2 separate regions of the Homo sapiens genome follow, and region 2 is linked to region 1. The links come from fine-mapping of genetic effects on gene expression. Tissue or cell type: unexposed skin. Region 1 holds a variant in brackets; the other region holds the start of a gene. All regions are shown on one strand. Distances are from middle to middle.

Region 1 (2,718 bases):
TCAAAATGTTACCTGTGGAGCTGGGTAAGTATAAAATAATAAAAAGATGATTTTAAAATGCTATCTTTTGAACTTGCCAGACCTTGTAATGGAAGTATCAGGCATGACAAAGGAGGGTAAGCTAGATATTTTAAAAATCCTTCCTACTTCTAGGACCAAGATAATGTAGCTCTCAAGAACTGTTGATATAGCACGTACTGTTCTTATGGAGGTGTGACGTGTGAGCCTTGTGTGAGGCACAGTCACAGTGAGGGCCATTGGCGCCGTCACACAGCTAAGGAAACTGAAGGCCCCGCACACACCTCTGCAGGCCCTGCGTGCTGTCTCCGCTGCATCTCGCTGGCCTTCCTGGGAAGTTTTACCACTTACGTATGTTCCTAGGCCCCATCATGACCACTTTTTTAGACTTCAGAATCTAAACACTCAAAACCAAAAGCATAAACTGACAGACAAATCAAACAAGCGTAAACTATCACAGAAGCAAGTTTTATGACCTTTAAAATATCTAGCAGAAACAGTATAAATTTGTCGGACTAGTAGCCCAGGAAAAAATGTCTAAAATTCTGAAGGCATTTCTATTATGAACTTGAGAAGCATTTTGGAGAACTAATTTATGAGTACTCATTTATTTGTAAGTCACTTGCTACCATGTAGACAGTATAAAAACAGACATGTATACGCATGTATACATAAAAGTACAAACATTAAGATTGTATAGCTTTGATTTTATTTTTAGCCATGAATCAGATAAAACTCATTAGTTTAAAAGAACAGTTGAGACCACGCATAGTGGCTCATGCCTGTAATCTTAGCACCTTGGGGCGCCAAGGCAGGAGGATCCCCTGAAGCCAGGAGTTTGAAACCAGCCTGGGTAACATAGTGAGACCCCATCTCTACAAAAAATAAAATAAAATAAAATTAGCCAGGTGCAGTAGTGCATGCCTGTGTTCCTAGGTACTTAGGAGGCTGAGGCAGGAGGCTAACTTGAGCCCAGGACTTCAAGGCTGCAGTGAGCTCTGATTGCACCACTATACTCCAACCTGGACAACAGGGCGAGACCCTCTCTCTAAAAACAAAACAACAACAACAACAAAAAACAAAAATAAAAGAACAGTTAGGTTAAATTGTGCCTTTGTAAATGGAACGAGTTATGGCTGGAACCCTTACACAGTTTTAGAGAAAACAGAATAGCAAATTTACACTTCAAAGAACAGAGAGAGAATTTAAGCTTTTTAAAGAAGGAGTTTGGGTGTGTTTGAAGACTAAAAATGGATGACAAGATAATACAGAGTCACTTGCCACAGGATTTGATAAGGAAACGAATTTCATTTAGATAGGTAGCTTCTAGTTTAGTCTCTGTTTTCCAACTGGACCAGTGAGCTCAGGGCAGAGCCCATTAATGGACAGGGCCAACAAGGCATTTGCAGTTTGTAGAGCCTAATACTTAACCTACATGTGAAAAGCGAGCGC[G/A]GCTGAAAGGTGGGACACCCAAATACCCAAAATCCAAGCATCCATCTTTCACACTGAACCCTGGCTCCCTCAGATTGGGAAACGCCACAGGACTAGGGCCCCTGCAGTGCTTCCCCGTGCTCCTCATTCCGGGGACTTCGCCCTGAGCCTGGGGAGTGAGCCAGCCCCCACCAGCCCACTGCCCACCACGGGAGCCTTACCTCTCAGCGGCCATCGTTTCCAAAGCCTCCAAGTTCACATAATTTCCATTTTTAGTGACATTTCACATTTGTGGAGTCCTTGTATTCTATTTTCTTCTAATTAAACACAATTTTCTTCATTTGCTTGAACATATTTAAATGGTTGCTTTGAAGTCTTTGTTAAACCCAACATCTGGGCCTCCTCCAAGACAGTTTCCATTGTCTGCTCCGTTCCTGAGTGTAGGGTACATTTTCCTTTTCTTTGCATGTCTGGTAGTTTTTATGTGGAAAATGGGCATTTTAGATAATATAGCGACTTTGTATTCTGAATTTTACAGAATTGTGAAGGTGGTTGTGGCTGCTTCTGTTTGTTTGATTTTATTTATTTGTTTTTTGGAAACCATCCTGGTCTTAATTTGCGGAATCCGTCTCCTGCAGAGTTACCTTTAAAGCAAATCTTTGACATCTGTTAACGTGATTTTCCCCCAAATACTGAATAGAATCATATTTTAAAATGTGAAAAGTTACTATTATTTATTCCTCATTTTCATTTCAAGAATGGTATATAGAATGCTGACAGTTTTTTTTTCCTCCACTGCAGGGAGCGTAACCACGCTGAAAGCACTGAACCTAAGACACTGCCCTCTGGAATTCCCTCCTCAGCTCGTTGTGCAGAAGGGATTGGTGGCTATCCAGCGCTTCCTGCGGATGTGGGCAGTAGAACACTCTCTCCCCAGAAATCCAACTTCTCAAGGTTTGTAGGAGGTGATTTATGACAAATCACATTAACGTTGAAGTTACAGCTTTTTAAAATCAGGGCAGAACCTGTCTTCTCTTTAATAACATCCTGAGAAATACAGGAGCCATGGGTCCTCTGCTGAGTTGACACAGTGTACACTGATCTCAGGCCGACCCAGTCATCTCTGTGACTTTTCCTTGGTTCTATAAATCTGGGCACATTATAGATCCTGGCTCAAGTGGATTTTGGTAGAAGTTTATTGTGATCAATCAAATGAAACAGTTATCACCTCCAAGCCACCCGCAGGCGGCTGCTTCAGGAATGACTTGA
Region 2 (2,601 bases), 36 kb before region 1:
TTCTCAAACATTCACCATCGTGAGTTCTGCTGTCCCGAAGTTCAGGACACAGTGACGGGCCACCCTGGAGCGTGTGGGGCCTGGTGTGGCTGGGCCTTCAGCCCTCCTTCTAGGCAGCACACCATGAATCCCCGGTGCCGTCTCCCGGAGGAACGGCGGTGCACGGCCCCACACTCACCAACGCCGGCCTGAGGTCGTATTACTGTAATTTCCCATAATGCTTAAATTATTTATCGCAAGTAAATAGCCTGGCTCCTGAGCGCTGGGCTCTAAAATTTTGAAGGATCCATCATACCTCTGCACGCTATCTATAAATGAAAAATGCACATTTCAAGTATTTTAAGAAAATGTCAAAAAACATGAAATGTGTCATCAATGTACGATTTTAAATGATTTGCATGTTACCTGTAGAAAAGAGCTGTATGTCTGCATGTGACTGTATTACAGTGCCCACAGGCAGACGCGGCACCACATCTCCCTGCAGGTGATAATTCGGGGGTCCCCGGGGCCCCCTGGCACCCCGGGAGGTGTCCCTGCAGGCCTGTCCCATGTCACCTCACCTGCCTTCTCTGCTTTCTATGGCGCCCACGGCTGCACGGTCACTCAGGAGACACCAGTCCCCGGGGTTGGCGGCTTTATCTACAGGACTCAGCAGCGCACTCGTTCCTGGCAGGGCAGGTCTTTGCACAACGGCCTGGCCCTGCCTCCAGCGCACATGGGTGAGCAGAGGATGGACACCGCGCGGTCACCAAGGAGACTGAGCCTCTGAGCGGCCGGGCCCCGCCACCTGTGGGGCAGGAGCCTCACTCGCACTCGGGCGGCACAGGTGAGCGCCTCTCTAACTGCAAAGTACAAACGAGCCCGCACGTGGGCCCGAGCGGATCACGGAAAGCGGAAAGCAGGGCTGCCACGGGCGGTGGGCGGAGGCGCGCGCAAGCCCGGAGACGCCACAGCCGCGGGGGACCCTCGCCCCGAGGGCCCGGGCCCAGCCTGCTCCTCCTGCGGCGCCGCCACTAGAAACGGAGGACGCGGGCGGGCGCCCAGAACTCGCGTGGGGCCGCAGCCACCCGGCGCGAGCTTCTCCGGAAGCCGGGGCGCCCCGGGAAGCCGTCCCGGACACCGGGGGAACCCCTGCGGGAAAAAGCCGCCCAGCCGCGCCCGCCCCTGCAATAGCGCGCGGCCCCCACGTCGTCCCCGTGCCCGCACTCACCGTCCTCCTTGTCGTCAAACACCGGCCTCCGCGCGGTGGCCGCCGACATGGACGAGCCCATCCTCTTCTTCCACTTGCTCCACTGAAACAGGGGGCGCGGCTGCGAGCGGACATCGCCCGAGTCCCGGGCCCGGGGCTGGCCAGCAGCGGGCGGCGGCAGGGCCGAGGGCGCGTCGGAGCCGGCGGGGCGCGCGCGGCCGGGGGGCGGCGAGCCCGGGGACGCCGCGGCGCTGCTGCCCCTGCGCTCGGCGCCACTCCTCATCGCCGGGTCTGGGTGCGCGCGGCAGCCGGAACTCGGGGCATGGCCGGCCGGCAGGGCCGGGAGCGGCAGTGGTAGCGGGAGCGCTCGGGGCCGGCAGCGCCCGCCGTGCGCTCTTCTGGGCGGTGGAACCCGCCCCGTAGATTGCGAGCGCTGGGGGCGGGGCAGGGGCGGGGCTTCTGGAAGGGGCGGGGGCGGGGCGGAGCTCCTGGAAGGGGTCGAGGCGGAGCTGAGCGCCGGGGCGTGGCAGGTGCGGAGCTTCGGGAAGGGTAGGGGCGGGGCCGAGCCGGGGGCGGGGCAGGGGCGGGGCTAGTGCCTGGAGTGTCGCTAGGGAGTGGGTGGCCGCCACCAGTCTAGGGATGGGGGCTGTGGTTCGCCGGGACACGGGGACCACGGCTCAGACTAGACGGCGGGTACGAGAGCGAGGGAGGCAGGGAGCGTCCCCACGGGTATCCTGGGGCCCCGGAGGTCGGCGTCCCTGGCACGGGGACTGCTGTGCCCGGCACGGCGGCGGGACCTTCTCGCGGTCTCCGGGGGCCTCCCTCCCCTGCCTTCTTCGTGAAAACAGCCGGCGCGCGGGCTTCCGCCGCCCAGTGCGGGGAGCCCTAAACTCCAGCCTTCTGCTTTGCGCAGGGTGAGGCCGGGCTGCAGGCCCGGGATGCGGGCGGCGGGAATCTGCCGGGCAGAGCCCGGCTCACGGTCAGGAGGCGGCAGGCTGAGTCCAAGCGCTGCGCCAGAGGGTGGGGTGGGGCAGGGCGGGCCTGGCTGCGCGCGCGCACACGCGGGCGCCTGGGGTGGGCGCTAAGCCCTGAGCACGTGCGCCCGCGCTCTCGGGCACCCCCGTGCCATCCTCGCGACCCCCGTCCGGCCTGAGACCGCGTGCCCGAGTCGCCCAGGGTCCCCTTGTCCAGATGCGACAGGGGCCTCGGCACTCGGCGTATTTCGGAGGCCTGGGGCGCGGCTTGACCTCCGGGCACCTCTGCCCCTGCGCAGGGCCAGGCGCGACCTTGCGCGGAAAGTGCTGGGCGCCTTGGAGTGCCCTGGAGAAGGCGCGGCTCTGCATGGAGCCTCGCCGCCTGCCCCTGGCGCTTGTCACTGAAGAATCAGTTTTTGCTACCGGGCTGTTTGACTT

What was found. PIP is the estimated chance that this variant, and not a neighbour inherited with it, causes the effect.
Region 2: it holds the start of STK32C, and the variant in region 1 is fine-mapped to the expression of STK32C in unexposed skin (GTEx, PIP above 0.99). The same link has a PIP of 0.9 or more in sun-exposed skin and whole blood.

What each region holds. Positions count from the first base shown.
Region 1 is chr10:132,342,248-132,344,965 of GRCh38, forward strand. It overlaps LRRC27 (leucine rich repeat containing 27), which reads left to right. Exons shown (of 11, transcript NM_030626.3): 4 at 1-24; 5 at 2,251-2,403. Among named protein-coding and RNA genes, the nearest start is that of LRRC27, 11 kb to the left of the region's middle. The variant G/A (reference allele first, on the strand shown) is at 1,471.
Region 2 is chr10:132,306,362-132,308,962 of GRCh38, forward strand. It overlaps STK32C (serine/threonine kinase 32C), which reads right to left and starts at 1,589. Exons shown (of 12, transcript NM_173575.4): 1 at 1,211-1,589. The coding sequence starts at 1,472. RefSeq lists a silencer at 1,413-2,062 and an enhancer at 2,315-2,601.